Linked DNA regions of Homo sapiens: regions 2, 3 and 4 are each linked to region 1. Evidence: fine-mapped expression QTL. A gene starts in region 1. Each other region holds a variant in brackets. All regions are shown on one strand. Distances are between the middles of the regions.

Region 1 (5,147 bases):
CCTGCCACCTCTGGCCACAGGGGACTTCCTGCCCTTCCTCAAAAGGAAGTCAGTCTGTGACCCAGGGCGACTGTGCTGCTGCCCCTTCCAGCCGCATGCCTCTCCCTCCGAACAGTCCACTGGTGTCAGCAAGGTCCCTGCCCTGAGTGTCACTGCCCCTGGGCAGCTGACCTGGCCCACGCCACTTCCTCCCACACCACTGCCTCCTTACCCTGCTTTATGAAGTTTTCTTGGCCCTTCTCAGTGCCCTAAATGAAATATTCATGACTTAGTTGGCATCTCCGTGGCAACCTGGCCTTGTGCCCTTGTGCCCTAGGATGTTCCAGCTCCTCACAAATACTGGCACAGAGGGGACATTCCTTGAACAGTGAATGCCACTGGACAGCCTCGAAGTCAGCGAGGATGCTGGGAGGCCATCCCAGAGGGGATCCGATGGGACCTTGGTCTAGGGGCCCTTGAAGGGTCTTCACCAACCTCAGCTTCTACGACTGTAAAAGCAACTCAAACAGAACTGTACTGTGCATGCCTGGAGGTCCCCAAACCTCCCGTTAAAATGACCAACACATGGGAGGACAGCTCTTGTGGCTGCCCCAAAGAGAAGGAGACATCCTCAATATGAAAACCACGTGCCCCACTCTGCTCCCACATGGCGTGCAACATGCCCCACACCACCCAGAGCAGGGAGGGACCCTGGCTGACTCTGGAGAGGCTGCTCTGAGGCCCAAGTCAACAAGAGGCTATGGCTGTGCAGAAGGAACAGCGCGGCGGTGACCACTGCCCAGCCTGGACAATTCCCAGGGCTCCACACATCTCTCGGTCACTGCGACCACCAGTATTATCAGATCCAACCGTTGCACGTGCAGGCGTGACTTTCTGGGTGCCTGAGTGATGGAGACAGAGACAGGCCCAAGAGTCTGTGAGTGCAGATACACAAAAGGCAACAGCAGGCTGGGCCGCCGAACTGGGCCAGGATGGACTGAGAATCCTCAGGTGGGACAAGGATCCCAATTATTCACATTTCCTGGTCCCTTCTGTCCCCACCCCATGAGAGAGGCGCCCCCGCCAGAAATATGTGTTCCCCTCCTTTTGCAGCTGGGAAAACAACCGAATGTCCTGGCGCTGCTTTCTAGAACATGTTCAGGTCTCCCAGAGCCCAGTGGCCTGAGATTCACTGGGCAGCAGGTGGCCGCCTCTCCCCAGAGCCCTTCAGTCTGGAAGTCCAAGCACAACCCTGGCGTCCAGCTCCCCTGCCACCAGGATCCAGGTTACCAGAGGCCGTCCGGGGATCTCCGGCAGCGTAGGAGGGCGGGCCCGGGCTGCAGCAGTCACGAAAACTCCGCCGGCGGCGCCCGAGGAGTTGCTAGGGGAATCTGCTCCGCCTCTAACCCGGCACACGCAGGCCCACCTGCTTCCAGCATGCCGGGACAGTTCACTGAGAGAACCGCCCCCACCGCGGAGGCACCGAGGGTCCGGCTCGCTTATGCCCACGCAGCCGGCTAGACCTTCTGTGGGGGCTCTGCTTTCTCCGCGTTACACCACCCCGACCCCACAAGGCCACGAGGAAAGTAAATGAGGCCTCAGCCCGTCCCCAGACCCCCTCCCCTAAGTGTCCACCTTTGCGCCTAGGACCCCGCGTGGGCCAAGCCGGCCTTCTCCGCTTGGACCCCGCCGGGCCTACCTGCCTTGCGCAGCAGACCGATTTGCGAGCCGTTGAGGGCCATGTAGTCGCAGTCGGTGACGACCCGCACTCGCACCCCACGCTGGTGCAGCAACTGCACGGCGCGGCCCAGCTGCGGGCTGGAGAAGGCGAACAGGCAGAGATCCAGGCTGGCGCGGGCGGCCAGCAGGGCACGCAGCAGGCGGCTTAGCGCGCTCTCGCCGTGGGGCAGGCCGCACGGGCAGCCCTCGGGGAGCTCGGCCAGCTCCGCGCCCGGAGCCCGCAGCAGGGCCTCGGTACAGGTCACCTGAGACGGGAAGAACAGCGCCTCGCGCCGCGGCCGCCGCCGCCTGGACCGCAGCCAGCGCAGCACCCAAGGCAGCGCCTCCAGAGTCAGAGCCAGGCCCACAGCCGCCGCGGCCGCCACCTGCCAACTCAACCGTCCCATGCCGCCGCTAATCCGGGACCCACAGCCACGCCGCCGCAGCGGAGTCTGCGCGCCCCCAGCCCTAGACCGCCAGGCCACGCCCCCGTCACGCGCCGCCAGCGGCCATGTGCCAGGCCACGCCCAGCCCCCCATGGCCACGCGCCAGGCCACGCCCTATCACGTCCTGCCAATTGCCACGCACCAGGCCACGCCCCCGTCACGCAGCGCCAACGGCCACGTGCCAGGCCACGTGCCAGGCCACGCCCAGCACCCATGGCCACACGCCAGGCCACGCCCCCGTCACGCCCCACCAACGGCCACGTGCAAGGTCACGCCCTCAGCCCCCGAGGGCCACGCGCTAGGCCGCGCCATGCCCCCACAACTGTCACGCACCAAGCTGAACCCACGCCTCCCATCAGCCCGCCCCCAACCCTCAACAGGTGACCACGCCTCCCTCCACGCGCCAGGCCACGCCCCCTGCCACAGACACCCTCCACCCCCCAACGCCAGGCTGTGCCCCCCATTTTCCTTCCAGCCAGGCGCTCGGCCACGCCCTCCAGGTTCCACCTCCCACCACGTGCCAAGCCACGTCCCCAAGCCCGCGCCACCAGGCAGCACCTGCACACCCGCGGGCCACGGGCCCTAGCACACCCGTCACCTGCCCAGGCCAGAGACCGCTCTCCGCGCTAGAAGCCACAGCAACCCCGGCTTTCCTCGCATGGAGCACAGCAGAGCTGCTCTGGAAATGTGGGGTCACACCTTCACTGTCTTCTCGGGAGCAGCTAGGCTGGGCTGGGGAATGACCTGGGAACACAGATAATCAGGGAATCAACACAGCTGGAGGCAGCATTGGAACCCAGCATACTGGAGGCGGTGTCGGCCCAGAGGTTTTTTCCTAGCCCAAGAGGTTTTTTCCAGCCGGCGTTGTTGGAAGGCCTGCCCTGCTTTAAGCATAAACAGAGGAAGAGACTAAGGCAGCCGAGGGCACTGGGCCGGGGGCATAGGGAAACGGGGCAATGTGGTGGTCTGGGCTGGATCCTGGAACCGAAAGAAGACATTCACGGAAAAACTGGTGAGAGCCAAATAAAGTCTGGAGCTTAATCGCATTGTACCAATGTCAGTTTCTTAGCTTTGACAAATGTATGAAAGGAATGTAAAAGGTTAACAAAGGAAGCTGCGTGGGGGTAAATGGATCTCTCTGTTCTATATTCGAAACTTTTCTGTAAAGCAAATTATTCTAAATTAAAAGTTTATTAAAATATTAAACTTGCACCTTCCATATGATCCAGCTATCCCACTCCTAGGAGAAAGGGCGGGATCCATTAACACAAGCACGTGTCCTGGCAGGCGTATGTGCCTAGAACAACCCAAAAAGGCGTCAGCAGGTAAACAGGTAAATAAGCTTTTGTATATCTGTACAAGGGAATGCTATTTAGCAATAAAATAGAATGAAGTGGCCTGGCACGGTGGTTCATGCCTGTTATCCCAGAACTTTGGGAGGCTGAGGCAGGAGGACAGCTTGAGTTCGGGAATTCGAAACCAGCTTGGCCAACATGGTGAAACACTGTCTCTACCAAAAAATACAAAAATTAGCTGAGTGCGCTGACGTGCCTGTGATCCCAGCTACTCGGGAGGCTGAGGTGGGAGAATCGCTTGAGCTCTGGAGACTAAGGTTGCAGTGAGCCAAGATCATGCCATTGCACTCCAGCCTGGGTGACACAGCAAGACCCTATCCCCCCCCCACCAAAAAAAAAAAAAAACAGTACTCACATGTGCTACGACGTGGATGAATTTCATTAATATTGAGTGGGAAAAGCCAGACAAAAAGAGTACATACTGTATGATTCCATTTACATAAAATTCTAGAAAATGCAAACTAGATTGAGGGAAAGCAGACCAGTGTAGCCTGGAGGCCAACAAAGCCACAAGGAAGTGGAGTGATGGATGTGTGCTTATCGGGTTGACTGTGGTGGTTTCACAGGTATATACATATGTCAAATTGTATGGTGTAAATAACTAAAAATGTATGTCAGTGATTATGTCAATAAAATTCTTTTTTTTTTTTTTAAGACGGAGCCTCGTTCTTTCGCCCAGGCTGGTGTGCAGTGGTGCGATCTCGGCTCACTGCAACCTCTGCCTCCGGGGTTCAAGTGAGTCTCTGCGTCAGCCTCCCGAGCAGCTGGGATTACAGGCGCCCACCACCACACCCGGCTAATTTTTGTATTTTTAGTAGAGATGGGGTTTCACCATCTTGGCCGTGCTGGTCTCGAACTCCTGACCTCGTGATCCACCTGCCTCGGCCTCCCAAAGTGCTGGGATTACAGGCGTGAGCCACCGCACCCGGCCTTCTTTTTTTTTTTTTTGAGATGAAGTCTCGCTCTGTCGCCCAGTCTGGAGTGCAGTGGCACGATCTCGGCTCACTGCAACCTTCACCTCCTGGGTTCAAGCAATTCTCCTGCCTCAGCCTCCCAAGTAGCTGGGACTACAAATGCACACCACCACATCGGCTAAATTTTTGTTTTTGTATTTTTAGTAGAGACGGGGTTTCATCGTGTTAGCTAGGATGGTCTCGATCGCCTGACCTCGTGATCAGCCTGCCTCGGCCTCCCAAAGTGCTGGAATTACAGGTGTGAGCCACCGTGCCTGGCGAATAAAATTCTTAACAAAGAAAAAGAACACTTGAGTTTAGTGCTGGCTCCCAGGCTTCCTAGCTGCATGGTCTAGGGCAAATTGATTCATCTCTTCTGAGCTTCACTTTCCTCATCTAAAACGATAATGAGAGGAGGGACTTGGAGTTGTGGAGGTATAAAGAAGGACTCAAATCCCTCCAGAGAGGGATAAACAAAAATAAAACTGGGGGAAAACAGTTTTCAAAAACAGCCACTTCAGGGCTGGAAATCTACCAAAGGCAGACAACAAAATGAGAAGCTTTATTTGATTTTTATTTATTTTTTGTCTTCCAGTTTCTATTTTTAACTTTGTCGGTATATAGTAGGTATATATATTTATCGGGTACATGAGATATTTTGGTACAGACATGCAATTTGTAATAATCACATCAGG
Region 2 (5,147 bases), 160 kb before region 1:
AAAGGAGAGGAACCAGCCTAGGAAGCCCCCATGTAGTGGGCAGGCAAAAGGGGAGCAGGTGCAGAGGCTGGGAGGTGAATCAGAGGGGTGGGCATTAGTGGGAGAAGCAGGTCTGGAACCCAGGGTGCTCAGCTTCTACATCCGCGTGTTGATCTGGGGGTGATGTCTCTTTCTCCTGCTGACTGTGTAACTTCAGGCATTGCCTCTGTGGAAGGAGCCTGCAAGCCTGTTTCTACTTCTTTGTCTAGCCCTGTTTTTTTGTGGGACCTTGGCTGGGTCATTTTCATTGCTCAGGCCTGTTTTCCCATCTGGAAATGAGCTCGGTCTTGATCTCTCCCAGGGTTCTTAGTCTTCCTGGTGTGATTCTGCCCTTGCTGTGCCCATACCCCACTGCCAAGGCTCCAAAGCTGCGGGGGCCTCAGGTGGGAATTTCAGACATAGAGGGTGTGGGCCAGGACGAGGTCTCAGGGAAGCATTTCATCAGGTTTCCCTTTGTTCCTGTAGACATTCGTAGAAGTTCTAAGGCATAGGACTTCCTGATTTGACTTAATGTGTATCTCAGAAACAACGGGGAGATTTCGCATCCCCCCCTTGTAGAAGATCTGTAACAGGAGTTGGTGTGTTGCTTGGCAGGGAGCGTGTCAAAAATCTCAGACACACAAAATCCCATTTCAGACGGCCAAGCACCATGACAAATGCTCAGCGTTGTCATCAGCGAAACCCAAATTGAAACCACAGTGAGATATCACTTCATACCTGTCAGGATGGCTAGAATTAAAAAAATAAGAATATAACATGTTGGCGAGGATGTGAAGAAGTTATAACTCTTGCACGTTGCTGGTGGGAATGAAATGGTGTAGCTGCTGTGGAAACAGTTTGGGGGTTTCTCAAAAAGTTCAGCATAAAACCTACCACGTGAGCCAGCATTCCCACTTCTAGGTATATGCCAAGAAGAATTGAGGACAGGTGTATTCAAACAGATACTTGTATACAAATGTTCATAACAGCACTACTCACAATAGCCAAACGGCAGCAACAATCCAAGTGTCCATCCACTAATGCGTAGATAAGCAAATCATAGTGTATCCATACCATGGAATATCATTCAGTTCTAAGAAGGAGCGAAGTACTGAGACATGCCACAACATGGACGAACCTAGAAAACATTGCGCTAAGAGGCAGACATGAAAGGTCATGTGTCACATACTGTGTGATTCCATTTATGTAAAATGTCCAAAACAGGTAAATCTGTAGAAACAGAAAGCAGATCGGTTGTTGCCAGAGCCTGAGGGTTGGGTGGGCAATGTGGAATGACTGCTAATGAGACTGGGGTTCTATTTTGGGGGTGATGAAATGTTTTGGAACTAGATAAAAGTGCTGGTTGCACAGCCTTGTGAAATGTACTAAATGCCCCTGAATTGTTCACTTCCAAATGCTTCTTGACTTATGATGGGACTTATGGTGGGGGTACATCCAGGTAAAACCCATCAGACCTATCACAAAGTCAAAATTATAAGTCAGGGACTGTCTGTACAAGAATCGCTCTCTCACACACACACACCTGCCTTCTGCTCCTTGTGTCACCTGGAGTGAATATCTGATTGTTTCTAGAGTCTAGACCAAGGCTTGGCAATTTTTTTTATAAAGGACTCTTCTTTTATCCTGGGGAACTCCTTCCCCAAGCCACTCTTTCCCACCTGAATGACACAGTTGGACCAGGTCGGTGGTTTTCAAGCTTTCATCAAATCCCGGAGCCTTTTACTCAAAAGAAATCTTGTATATTTTAGGTTTTGCAGGCCAACAGGCAAAATCGAGGAGGTTGTGTAGGATATAGCCACTTAAAAATGTAAAAGCCATTCTTGGTTTTGGGGTCTTAGAAAAGCAGCTGGTGGGCCAATTTGGCACAGGGGCACAGTGTGCCACCCCTCAGACCAGCCCTGTCCTCTAGAACTGTAATGGAAGCCACATAGGAAATTTTAAATTTTCCAGCGGCTACGTTAAAAAAGTAAAAAGAGGGGCCGGGTGCAGTGGCTCACGCCTGTAATTTCAGCACTTTGGGAGGCCGAGACGGGCGGATCACGAGGTCAGGAGATCAAGACCATCCTGGCTAACACAGTGAAACCCGTCTCTACTAAAAATACAATAAATTAGTCGGGGCCGGGCACAGTGGCTCACGCCTGCAATCCCAGCACTTTGGGAGGCCGAGGCGGGTGGATCACGAGGTCAGGAGATCGAGACCACGGTGAAACCCTGTCTCTACTAAAAATACAAAAAATTAATCGGGCGTGGTGGTGGGCGCCTGTAGTCCCAGCTACTCAGGAGGCTGAGGCAGGAGAATGGTGTGAACCCGGGAGGCGGAGCTTGCAGTGAGCTGAGATTGCGCCACTGCACTCCAGCCTGGGCAATAGAGTGAGACTCCGTCT[CA/C]AAAAAAAAAAAAAAAAAAAAGAGGTGAAATTAATTTTAATTATGTTTTATTTAACCAGATATATCCAAAATACTGTCATTACACCATGCAAAAAAGTTATGACGTGCGCATTTTACGTTACAGCACATTTCAGCTCAGACGAGCCACTTTCCCACTGCTTAGTAGCCTGGTGGTGTGGCCGCTGCCCGCAGTCCTGGTGGCAGCCCTGGGGTGCCACAGGTGGTGGTGAGTTTCCTCCGTCCCTCCCTTGGGCCTTGGGTTGGAAGGTTCCTGGAGTGCTGCTTCTCTGGGACTTGTTACTCCTGTTTGTGTCCCCACTCCTCCTTGGCCCTTGGTGTCTATTGCCAACTTTTGAAGTTTCTTTCTTTGACTATCACATCTTTGATGGCTTCTTTTGGTGTGTTAGAAGTTCTCTTCTGGGCTCTGATCCCCACTCCCTGCCCAGAGGCAGAGTTTAGGGGCAGAAGGGAGGAAGGTCCTTGCCAGGGCCTCAGGCCTGTCCTGTGGGGAGCCGGTGAGGGCCGTGGTGGGCAGGCTGGCGTATCCCCCTCTAAACTGGACGTGCAATGTTCCAGTATTATGTAATTGCACCCTAGCTTTTTTCCCTGGGTTCTAGCCTGTTACCTGATCTTTTCCTCTGATTTCTCTTTCCCTTGCCACACAGAAGGACTATAGTCCAAGGCCTATGTTCTCTTCCTGACACAAATGTGCAGGGTGACCCAGGAAGGTGACTTATGTCTCCCACCTGTAAAGCGGGTGCCTGCCTTCTCTTTGCAGAGTAGTGTGCTGATGGAATGGGGAGTTCCTGAGCCCCCCATGTGGTGAGGGATGTTCCAGGAAGCACGCTGGCTGCCGCCTCTGGGGGAAGTAGCCTTTCTTTGGGCAACCTCATGTTCTTTAGCAGAAATAAAGAAATTTAACTCAGAATGTTTAAATTGTTCCCAAGCTGCCACTTAGTCTTGAAAGAGGGAGAGAGTGTGGCAGCGAGGCACAGGGGAAGACATCCTACTACTGGACATGGAGGATCATTGGGTGCTAATTTGGAAGCATCTGACCTAAGAAAACGGGCTCTTCTCTTATCCTGGGAAACTCATTCCCCAAGCCACTCTTTCTCAGCTGAATGACACCGTTGGACCAGGTGGATGGTTTTCAAGCTTTCATCAAAAGCAGTGCAGCTCTGGGCAAGGCAGCCAAAGCCTGGAGCTTGGCCTCCCATCCTGGGGCGGGGTGGCGGGGGAGGGCCTTGGGTCATCTCTGGGGCCATTTGGGGCAGGTTCGAAAACTCTGCCCTAGATTTTGTGCTTTTTCCAGTTTTAGCAATTGAGGCAGTCTTACAGCTGCTCTGGAATGGAGCCCCCATGCCCTACCCAGAGCTCTCAAGGCATTGTCACTTCCGTTGGGGGCAAGAGCACCTAGGGGGTTGATTCACTGACATTTTGTCTCTGGAAGCTGGAACTGAAATCTTCCAAACCACTCACTGGTTTTCTCAGTCAGGGTCATCCTAGTTCACATGAAACCACAGCCTGGTTTTTGCCTGGAGCCTGTAACCCTTCTGGCTCCTTCCCCTTGGGCGCAGCTTGGCGGTTGCATGCTGTGCCAGAGGTGGCCCTGGTGTCAGAGCTGCTTTGCAGCGAGACTCTGAGTGGATGGGCCTGCCGGATCCTTTGAACCTCTACCTACTATATTGTGTCATAGCCCGTGATTTCACACAGACCTCAGCAGGCAAGGGTGGCCAGCAGGGCTGGTGGCAGCAAGGCCTCCCTCGGAGGAGGGGACCCTGAGTTTTCAGAGTGGTTGAGCGGCCTGCCCAAGGTCACTGAGCTGCTCAGCAATGGGGCCGTGATACAGATTTCAGCTCCATGAGGCTCCCGTGCCAGAGTCCACCCTGGCTCCAGACTCCACCCTGGCTCCAGACTCATCCTCCCTGTCCTTGGGAAGGCCACTTTGCTTTGTAAACTCCTTAGTGTTTTTGTTTGGCCCCGGGGCAGATGGGTAGTAGGGAGATTGGTATATTGCAGTGCTGCAGAATAAATCACAGCTGTTTCCTGGACTTCTAGTTCCTAGCCCTGGGAAGAGGGACCTGCTGGGGCTGTCTGCACCTGCCCTCCCTGCCTTTCCCCCACATTATGCAGGTGAGGGATTGTCTTCAATTAGCAGATGGAGCCGCCGAGACCTGGAGAGGTTCAGCAGAGGTTCAGCGACCTGCCTAGGTCACAGGAAGTCCAGCACGATTTTTTCCAAAGTCCTGTTTGGCCACCTTGTCTCTAATAAGTGTTAACCTTTGCTATCAGGAACAGGGCCTTGCCCCAACTTGGACTCCTTAGTTCTTGAGTGTGTGGTGGGGCGTGTGTGTGAACGGTGCAGGCTGTTGTGCAGGGCATCGCCCAGATCTTCACCTCTCCTCAGCCTCGGGGTGCCCCACATCCCCAACATGGGCTACTGGCCTAGGCAGCAGCCACACCTTTGGCACAGCTCTGAACAGGAAGCACAATTTTTTCCTCTGAAAGAGGAATTCAGAATCAGGAAATAGCTTTGTCCTTGATCTCTGTAGGTTCTGAGGCACTGGATTTAACAGACCCACAAGCAACCGTGGCGCACTTTCCACACAAGGTTTCTGACCTCCTCGTGGTCCTTCCCATAGATAAAGGGGCCAAGGGAAGGGGGAGCAGCTGCAGGGAGCCCCAGCTGAGCCAGAGAAAGGGGCCATGTCTCCTGGGTCTCC
Region 3 (5,147 bases), 180 kb before region 1:
CCCCAGTCCCCCCAGCTGACGTAAGCCCTGGGCGTGGCAGGTGCACTCAGGAGGCAGGGCTGCCTGCTCAGTGTTGGGTGGAGCCACATGCCTGTCCAGGGCTGGGTCCACCCTGTGTGGACTGAGGCCACCATGTGCACGGTTTTCAGCTATGCCTCATTCGCTTGCTGTGTGAATCTGGGCTGCAGGGCCTGCTGCTGTGTGCCACAGGCCAGTGCCCTGCAGTGCAATTGTACCTGAGGACCCAAGGTGGCCAGGGAAGCCCCAGGTGCGACTTGGCAGGGGAAGCAGGGGCTGTGGACGGATGGAGAGCTGTCATGTGGAAAGGCAGTGTGTCCCCAGGCCGTGGCCCAGCCTCCAACACCCCCAAGTCCCCTCCAGGCCTCTCCAGACCAGGCCCACCACATACTGCCTGTGCAACCTCGGGTGAGTGACCTCACCTCTCCAAGCCTCAAAGTCCTGATCCCCATTGGGAGGGTGCAGTCAGAGGGTGAGTCTGAGCCCCCTGGGGCCTGGCAGGCTCTGTATGCATGGCAGCCACCTGCCCACACTCACCCCAGACATCTGCTCATTCCAGAAACCTCCTGGGAACATCCACCATATGCCAGGCATAGTGTCAGACAGGAGGGGACAGAGAAAAACAAGATCAACAACCGCCCTGCCCTTGTGGAGCTGGCGTTCTAGTACCGGAGACAAAACAAGGTGCTTCCAAGGAGGAAGCCGTGCTCATCAGGTAATCCGCATAATCGCTCAGGAGGAGACTTGGCAGCCAGATGGAGACGCCACCTGGGGTCTTAGGGGAACAGCATTCCAGGCAGAGGGAACTGCAGCTGCAAAGATCCTGAGGAGGAATGAGTGCCCAGCGTTTGAGAAGCAGAGCCGGCCTCTGGACGCCTGCCCTAGGGAGAAGGCTTTCCACCTCATTTTTAGGGTCCTAGGGGATCCCCTCCACTGTGAATGCACGAATGCACAAGGATGACATCGGCCCTTTTATAGAGGGGAAGTTCTTCCCGTAAACAAACCAAAGTCCCTCTGGGGGACTTTGCAACTGAAGCTGAGCCTTCTCTTTTAGTCACTCCCACCCCCCAGACCCAGAGCCAGCTGATTCCTCCTGCATCCTGCTCACAGCTCCAGGAAAGCGTCCTGGTGGGGAAAGTCAGTGAAACACCAGGTGGCCTAAGGTATTTTCCCAGGACCTCAATGTGACTAGACAGGGCTAGCTTATCAACCCTGGGATGCGATGAGAGGGGCAAAGCCCGGCAAAAGAAACTGGACCCAGGGCACTGAGGGAAGCCTAGGTCCCGTCTGAGTGCTCCGCACAGGGATAGGAGGAGAGACAGTCGGGGGTTTTGTGAGGGAGGGGATAGGTGGGTGGTAGTAATGAGGGGTGTTCAAGTCAGTGCCCAGCAACCAAGAGGAGGAAGGAGGTAGAGGGGGTGTCAAGCAAGCCGTAGCTTCAGGCACAGCTGGATCCATAACCCTGAGGCTTGGGCTATGATGGCTGTTGCCCAACCCCCACTCCCATATCACCCAGGTCTCAGTCACCTTCCTCTCTGTGACACAACAGCCTCCTCCCTAGGGCTCCTTCCTTCCACTCTTGCCCCCACAAATCCATTCTCCATATATTGTTAAAACCATGCCACTCTCCTGCTTAACCCCTCCCCCCATGGCTTCCTGACGCCCTCCACATAAAGCAGAAACTCCTTACCCAGGCCCCAGAGACCCCCGCTGACCTCCCCAACCCCACCTCTCTCTCCTCTCCCCTCACTGCCTCTGTCCTTTCTGTCCCTTGAACACACCAAGCACATCCCCACCTGGCCAGCATTGCACCTGCTGTCCTGTCCCCCGGGTGCATCACCATGTGGCCGCCCCTTCTCAGCAGGACAGCCTAGATGTCGCTGTCCTCGGCCATCTGGCCCCCAGCCTTCTGTCCACTCCCCACACCAGCCCTGTCCGGCAGCTCCTTCTGTGATGGAAGTGCTCTTTGTCCACTGTCACCAGCCTCTGTCAGAAGCTACCGGCCCCGTGTGGCTAACAAGCCCCTGAAATGCGGCTACTGCAATGGAAGAACTGGACTCTTAATTTTCAATTACTCCAATTACTTGAAACTCATATAGCCACATGGGGCTAGTGGCCACCATTTGGACAGAGCGACTCCAATGTTCTACATGGTGTAATTTTATTTACTAGCCCTTAGCACAAAGTGACGTGATCTTAACTTCACTTGTTTTCTGTCTCTCTGACGAGAGTATCAGCTTTGTGAGGTGAGGATTGCCTCCGTCTTTTCCACTGCTGTATGCCGGGGCTTAGTAGTGGGCCTGGCGTATAGTAGATGCTTAATATGTAATTG[C/CTGAA]TGAATGAATGAATGAATGAATGAATGAATGAATGAATGCATGCATGAGTGAATGAATGACTCCTGGGGCCATGAACTCTGAATTTCTCCAAAAGGAATGCTAGTTCTGCCGGGGATTGTTGCTGTGTGACCTAAGTCAGGATCTTGCCCTCTCTGGGCTCAGCATCCTGACCAAGGGGTACCAGGGCCCCTCTGCTCCTAAGGCTCTGAGACTTCCTGCTGCTTACTCTGTCCAAGCTGCCCCGTCTATCCTTCATCCCCGATGCCCACCCCCAGTCTCCCCAGCCACTTCATAGGAAAGGGGCCAGACAGGCTTCCTGTCCCTGGAGCCTGTGTCTAGAGAGCCATCAAAGCAGGCTGCCTGTACCCGTCTCCTAGCAACAAATGGCCTTAGGAAGTATTTGAGGGTGGGATAAAGTGGTGGCCACTGTGGGGCTGTGTCCCAAATCGACAGCTCTCCAGTTGGCCAAGGGCAAGTGTTTCCCAGGAGCCAGGCCAAGGCAGGCTGGCAGTCGTGGTACATGCACCAGGAGTCGGCTCCAGGGTCCTCCAAGCCTGGGCCCTGCAGTCGGCCACCCTTACCTTCTCGTGCCTGTGCTTGGGGTTCAGAGGTGGCAGGGGGTGCTTGGGCCCTACATGCTTCTTGTGGGGACCTGTAGGAACCAGGCATGAGGAAGTGAGGAGTGGGTGCTGACTGTCAGTGACTCGAACCCTGACTGCCCCAGCATCCAACACTCACACGCATGCACATGTGCCTACTCAGCCGGACACAACACACAACTATGCATGCTGACACGCACTTGTGCAGAGGCATAGGCACAGACTGCACTTACCTTATTCTATTTATTATTTTTATTTTATTTTTAGAGACAAGTTCTCACTCTGTCGCCCAGCCTGGAGTGCAGTCATGCCATCCTAGCTCACTGCAGCCTCAATTTCCTGGGCTCAAGCGATCCCCCCGCCTCAGTCTTTCAAGTAGCTGGGCCTACAGGTGTGTGCCACCATGCCCAGCTAATTTTTAATTTTTTTGTAGAGATGAGGTCTCACCATGCTGTCCGGGTTGGTCTCAAACTCCTGGCCTCAAGCGATCCTCCTGCCTCAGCCTCCCAAAGTGCTGGGATTATAGGTATGAGGCAACTTGCCAAGCCCAAACATGCACATAGATATGGACACATGGACCTGCATATATAAAACAGACATGCAAACATATACAGCTCAATCAGACAGAATACACACACACAATGACACTCACAGACAATCACATAGAAGCCCAGATATATATGCAGTGGGGCCAGCCAGATAGCCCAGTTGCCCACAAACACACATAAATATGTACCATCATCTCACAGATCATATGACATGCAAAGATGGATGCATCTGTACAATTCACACACATATTCACAAGTCAGAGATGCAGGTCAGACCCCCAGATAAACAGGCCAACATGCATGTAGACACATAACATGGTCATTCCCAGAAACACCCTCAGAGATAGCCAGACCACCCTCTGGACATGCACAGACACAGACACATAAGGAGATGATATATCAATGACTCTTACACACACCCACGAGTCACAGCCCCTGAAGTGATATGGTGAACTAGAAGTGTCAGCCCCCATTCCTGTGGACTCTGAGCAAACCTCCACTCCCCAGCCTGGCCACACGCAGGCACGCAGGCCGGAAGAGCTGCCGCCTCTCCCTGCCCCGGCCAGCTGGCCGTCCTCCAGGCTTGGTGCAGATGGTGGGGCCAGGGCAGGGACAGCCCAGCCTGTGGCCTGTGTTGCCTGCCTCTTGAGTCCCAGGCCTCTTCTTCTTGGCTGTGGGACCCTGAAGGCCCCCTCCCCACAGCTGAGTAGGCCCTGACAATTTGTGTAACAACCTCGATTTCTGATTTCTTTTGGAAAATTAAAAGATCGATCACGACCAGGCCCAAATCCTGTAGGACAGACGGCTACGACCGAGGCCATGGAGCTGCTGCCTGTTGTAGGAGCATGGACACCCCAGATCACTGAGGCCACTGCTGCCACCTGCCTGGCCCTAGAGGCCTCTGAGTGTGCAACCCTGGAACTACATGCTTCCCTGCATGTCCTGAAAAAGAAAAACATGTCAATCCAGAGAGCAGATTACTACAACTTTCTTGGCTCTTTGTTTAGTGATACTTATCAAGAGCCTTACCAATGTGTTTATCTTTTGACTTAGCAATCCCAACCCATGAATTTATCCTAAGAAAAAAAAAATTTAAAAAGTACACAAACATTGTTCATGAATGGCTAGATACGCACATACGCATACATATGCAGCCCTGTGTCCCTGTGTGTATGCACATGTACATTATATATATATACATATATATATATATATATATATATATATATATAATTTTTTAAGATGAAGTCTTGCTCTGTCACCCAGGCTGGAGTGCAGTGGCGCCATCTCAGCTCACTGCAACCTCTACCTCCCCGGTTCAAGAGATTGTCCTACCTCAGCCCCCCGAGTAGCTGGGATTATAGGCGCACACCGCCATGCCTGGCTAATTTTTTTGTATCTTTAGTAGAGATGGGGTTTCACCATGTTGGCCAGGCTGGTCTCGAACTCCTAACCTCAGGTGATCCGCCCACCCTGGCCTCCCAAAGTGCTGGGATTACAGGCATGAGCCACCGTGCCCAGCCTACATGTGCATATATACACATTCATGTAGACATACACCTTGTTATTAGAGTTTTTACAAATACGGTCTCATTCAGCAAAAACTATGTGAGGCCATACATACTTTCCCCTTAATATGTTGTGAATAC
Region 4 (5,147 bases), 83 kb before region 1:
AGCCTAGATATTTGCCCTTACTCTCGCAGCACAAGATTCAGGCCTACCCAGACACAGATGGTTGTATCCTGCCCCCTAGGCAGAGGCAGGGGAGGGGAGAGGTGCTGGCTGAGGGGCTCCCTGGAGCCATTGGTTGAGTCTGTTCAGTCTGGAAATGCTGCTGAGTGCAGAGCAGCAGGGGGACCAGCTCTGGAACCAGAGTGCCTGGGTTTGAATCCTGACATGGCTACTTCCTAGCATTGTGACCTTAAATCAAAATTACAGTTCTGCGTTGTTTAATGACAGGCACACATCCTGAGAAATGTGTTTTCTCAGGCAGTTTGGTCCTTGTGTAAATATTCTAGAGTGCACTTACACAAAGTTAGACAGTACAGCTTATTGCACACCTAGGCTTTGTGGTAGAGCCTATTGCTGCGAAGCCATAAACCTGTACAGCATATACTGCAATATCACAAGCAGTTATAACACAGTGGCAAGTATTGATGTATCCAAACCTAGCAAAACATAGAGGGAGCTGTTGACTAACATCGTTGTGCGGTGCATGACTGCACCTAGCTTCTTAGCAGTCTGCTTCCTTGTCTGCGGGATGAGAGTGACAGTAGTGCCTGCCTCATAGTGTGTTCGGAATGTTCAGTGAGAGGACACGGGAAGAGTTTGCAGCAGTGCGTGGTATTCAAGGGCATGGGCGCAAACATGAGCACCATTGTGCCCTGCGCCTGTGCTGGTGCTGTTGTTGCTGCTTCCCCATCGGCAGCAGGGGAAGGGGGAACACTGCACTACTGAGACTTGGAGGGAGCTATTTTCTTTTTCTTTTTCTTTTTTTAAGTTCAGGGGTGCAAGTGCAGGTTTGTCACATAGGTAAAGTTGTGTCATGGAAGTTTGTTGTACAGGTTATTTCATCACCCAGATATTAAGCCTAATGCCCATTAGTTACTTTTCCTGATCTTCTCCCTCTTCCCACCCTCCCCACTCTGAAAGGCCCCAGTGTGTGTTGTTTCTCTCCATGTGTCTATATGTTCTCATCATTTAGCTCCCACTTACAAGTGAGAGCATGTGCTGTGTGGTTTTCTGTTCCTGTGTTCGTTTGCTAAAGATAGTGGCCTCCAGCTCCATCCATGTCCCTGCAAAGGGTATTATCTCATTCTTTTTTATGACTACATAATATTCCATGGTGTATATATATCACATTTTCTTTCTCTGGTCTGTATCATTGATGGGCATTCCGTGTCTTTGCTATTGTGAATAGTGCTACAGTGAACATACATATGCATGTGTCTTTATAATAGAATGACTTATATTCCTTTGGGTATATACCCAGTAATGAGATTGCTGCATCAAATGGTATTTCTATCTTTAGGTCTTTGAGGAATTGCCACACTGTCTTCCACAATGGCTGAACTAATTTACACTCCCACCAACAGTGTATAAGTGTTCCTTTCTCTCCACAATCGAAGGGAGCTGTTTTTTGTTTTCATTTTGTTGTTTTTTTGTTTATTTGTTTTGTTTTGTTTTGTTTTTGAGATGGAATCTCGCTCCATCACCCAGGCTGGAGTGCAGTGGCGCAATCTCGGCTCACTGCAAGCTCCGCCTCCCGGGTTCACGCCATTCTCCTGCCTCAGCCTCCCGAGTAGCTGGGACTATAGACGACTGCCACCACGCCCAGCTAATTTTTTGTATTTTTAGTAGAGACAGGGTTTCACCGTGTTAGCCAGGATGATCTCGATCTCCTGACCTCGTGATCCGCCCGTCTTGGCCTCCCAAAGTGCTGGGATTACAGGCATGAGCCACTGCGCCTGGCCAAAGGGAGCTATTTTATAGCAGGTCCTCAGTACGTACCTGGACCTGTCTTCCAAGAGTGCTGGTTAGAAGCAGTACATAAATACAATTTAAAAAGTTAGTCCCAAACCCTCACGCAGTGCTAGTGGGAATGTGAGATGGCACAGCCACTTTGGGAAATAGTCTGGCAGCTCCTCAGAGTTAAACATATAGTTTCCATATGACCCAGCACTTCTGCTCCTAGGTACACACCCAAGAGAAATGAGAGCACAGGAGCACTGTACAGGAATGTGCACAGCAGCACTATACACAGTAGCCAAAAAATGGAAACAGTCCAAATGTCCATCAACAGATGAATGGATAAACAAAATGCGGTATAGCCGCACAATGGAACGTTATTCAGCTGTAAAAAGTATTGAAAGACTGACACATGCTGCAATGCGGAGGAACCTTGAAAATATGCTAAATCCTTGAAAATATGCTAAATGGAAGCCAGATTTTTCCATTTATGCAAGGTATCCAGAAGAGATGCATCCACAGAGGCAGGAAGCAGGTTAGCAGTTGTTGAGGTGGGGACAGGTGTCAAAGGGAAGTGACTGCGAATGGCTTTTCAGGGGGAGATGGAAATGTTCTGCACTTGATTGCAGAACAGCTCTGTGAACATGATGCTAAAAGCCATTGAACTGTACACTTTAGGTAAATTGTATGTAAATTATATCTCAATAAAGCTGTTGTTAAAAAGAAAAGTTAGGCCAGGGGCGGTGGCTTCGCGCCTGTAATGCCAGCACTGTGGGAGGCTGAAGCAGGCGGATCAGTTGATGTCAGGAGTTCGAGACCAGCCTGGCCAACATGGTGAAACCCCGTCTCTACTAAAAATACAAAAATTACTATAAAATACAAAAATATAATACTAAAAATACAAAAATTAGCTGGGTGTGGTAGCATGCATCTGTAGTCCCAGCTAGTTGGGAGGCTGAGACAGGAGAATCCCTTGAACCCAGGGGATGGAGGTTGCAGTGAGCTGAGATCACACCACTGCACTCCAGCCTGGGCAACAGAGCGAGACTTCGTCTCAAAAAAAAAAAAAAAAAAAAAGAAAGAAAAAACGAAAAGTTAATACCAGGATTAAATAAAAATGAGATCATCTGATTAAGAGCAGGAAGTTTTTTTTCCCTCCTCCATGGAAATAGATTGGGCTCTGGAGTTAAAATATTCCCTTCTTTGATAACGTATTTACCCCCATTTGCTCTCCTTTCTCTGTGTGTGATAGGGTTAGGTGATGCCCGCCTCACAGTAAGTAATATTGAAGAG[G/A]GCATAAAAGGGAGTGTAACTGTGAAATCTTGACACACAGGTAGTTAATACATGCTAATTTCCTTCAGTCCTGGCTCAGCTTGGTATGTTTTTGCCTTTTATTAATGCTTCTGAAATCCTTTTTGGAAGGAGATAGAACCCTCACTTTGCACATGAGGAAACTGAGGCCCAGAGAGGTGGAGAGGTGGAAGGCATTGCTTCATACTCATTTGGTGAGGCTGAGACACAACCACGTTCAGCAGCAGAGCAGGGGCTTTGTTCAGCTGGGGGCCAAGTGCCCAAACAATTACTGCGTAAGAGGGAAGAGTGGGCTTCAGGGACAGTGAGCAATTTGGTGACACTGAACCCTGGAACAGTGGCCTCAAAGTGGGGTCTGTGCCTCCAGGGGGCCGGTGGATGATCCCTTGAGAAGAAAACTTTGGAATTTCTGTTGATATATTCCATCTAACATATGTCTCTGTGTGTGTGTGTGCACACGCATGCACACTCATAATAGACTGGCACCATGGTATGGATACACAGCTCATCCAGGGCCTGTACTGTCAGCAGTTTGAGACCACGGTCCCAAGGACCAGGGTGGGAGTCAAAGACCAGAGAGGAAGGGCCACCTTAGGAAAGCCCCTCTGCCTCCACAGTGGTTCCTTCAGGATGGCTTCTGACACTCTAGTAACGAGTGCACTGGCCACTTTACCATTTCATGTCATCCAGTCCTCACTGTGGTCCATGGAGTTTCCTCAGCAAACAAGAGAGTCCACCTCAGAGAGACAAGATGCCTTGTCTAGGGAGGTGGAGGTGGGGTGCGCTTTTGCATGGGGGTGTTGGGCTCAAGAGGGAAGTCAGAGCAACCCTTCATTTGCCCAGAGGGTTCAGACAGGCACCTGCACTATGCCAGGATGCCCAGGATGAGAATTTCTGTCAAATAGAGTAAAGGGGCTGGAGCTGGAGAGAGGAGATTAGGAAAGCCAGGACCCCCACCTTGGGCAGGAAGGCCCACCTGTCCTGTGGCTGTGGCCATAGCACTCAGTGTGGGTCTCCCCAACCAGAAGGTGGCAGGGGCTTGGATCCAGGCTTCCTGGACTAACATAAAGATGGGGTCTGAGGCTGCCTCCTGTACCCTCTCCTTCTCAAGAAACACCCACTGCTTGGTTGCAGAGCAACCCTACCCATCTCCCTTTCCTGGCTCCTTCTCAAGGACCCTCCAAGAGTGTCTGGAAGAGACACCTGCGGGCCACTCCACTGATGGAGAGCACTGAGCTGGGCTTGAATGTGGCTCCTCCTCGTGTCCCCCCAGGGTCAGTGTTGAGGCAGGATGCCAATGGTGTATGCTGAAAGGGTGAAGCCACTGAAGGAGGCTTCCCTGTGAGCCCAGCCTCCATCCCACCTGCTGTGCCACCTCCCTTCTGAGCTGGACCCACGGGGGATGGCTGAGTCCAGAGACCCCACAAGGAAAGGCTTCTTGGACCTGGACATTTAACCATGGAGAAAAGAGCCAGCAGCCATGTAGGCAAGGGCTCTGCAAAGCCAGCAGCCCTCCGGTCTGACTCCTGCAGGCAGGCATCAAGGGGTGTAGAAAGAGGTGGCAAGTAGGTCAGAGGAAGTAACAGGAAGATCACAGGAGCTTGAGGTGGAGGGACAAGGAGGTTGCACCTAACCTGTTTCTGAAAGGAAGAAGGTCGGGGTGTGGAGAGTGGTTGGTCTGAGCTCAGCATGGGCACCAGACCCAGCATCCTGCTCTTGAGACCAAGCCCCCATTGACTGTCAGCAAGGAGCTTGAGGCTGGATGGCCTCTGGGTGGAAGGCAGCCCAACTGCAGGCCACCCCTCAGATGGATCAGAAGCATCTTCTGCTTCTTCAAGAATGAGAACAAGGAAATGGTGGGCTGTTGGGGGTGCTCAGTGGAGAAGCCAGCAGCTGTCCATTAGTGGGGTGGAGTCAGTGTGGAGTGTGTTAAGGACAGGGGCACCCCTGGTGTGGTGGTAACCATGGCAACCCATCTGCTCTCCCAAAGCATCCTTACGTTGGGAGAGTAAGAAAGAGGCCAGAGGGTACAGGGCTAAACA

Direction of the effects. Alleles are on the strand shown, and positions count from the first base shown. SD is a standard deviation of normalised expression in the study named. Not every link is listed here.
With allele CA in place of C in region 2, the expression in naive CD8 T cells of the gene that starts at base 2,152 in region 1 is higher (large effect, 0.88 SD a copy in Schmiedel 2018).

Evidence for each region. PIP is the estimated chance that this variant, and not a neighbour inherited with it, causes the effect.
Region 2: its variant is the best candidate, but not a certain one, in a credible set for the expression of PLD6 in naive CD8 T cells (Schmiedel 2018, PIP 0.88).
Region 3: its variant is the best candidate, but not a certain one, in a credible set for the expression of PLD6 in whole blood (INTERVAL, PIP 0.89).
Region 4: its variant is the best candidate, but not a certain one, in a credible set for the expression of PLD6 in whole blood (INTERVAL, PIP 0.81).

The regions. Positions count from the first base shown.
Region 1 is chr17:17,204,182-17,209,328 of GRCh38, forward strand. PLD6 (phospholipase D family member 6) reads right to left here and starts at 2,152. Exons shown (of 2, transcript NM_178836.4): 1 at 1,679-2,152. The coding sequence starts at 2,105. RefSeq lists enhancers at 1,171-1,290, 2,346-3,185 and silencers at 1,811-1,930, 1,951-2,000, 2,121-2,370, 2,411-2,460.
Region 2 is chr17:17,047,891-17,053,037 of GRCh38, forward strand. All of the region lies in intron 1 of MPRIP (myosin phosphatase Rho interacting protein), which reads left to right. Among named protein-coding and RNA genes, the nearest start is that of MPRIP, 8.0 kb to the left of the region's middle. The variant CA/C (reference allele first, on the strand shown) is at 2,424.
Region 3 is chr17:17,028,251-17,033,397 of GRCh38, forward strand. No RefSeq gene overlaps it. Among named protein-coding and RNA genes, the nearest start is that of MPRIP, 12 kb to the right of the region's middle. RefSeq lists an enhancer at 1,114-1,688. The variant C/CTGAA (reference allele first, on the strand shown) is at 2,351.
Region 4 is chr17:17,120,854-17,126,000 of GRCh38, forward strand. The region is part of intron 3 of MPRIP (myosin phosphatase Rho interacting protein); the gene reads left to right. Among named protein-coding and RNA genes, the nearest start is that of MPRIP, 81 kb to the left of the region's middle. The variant G/A (reference allele first, on the strand shown) is at 3,088.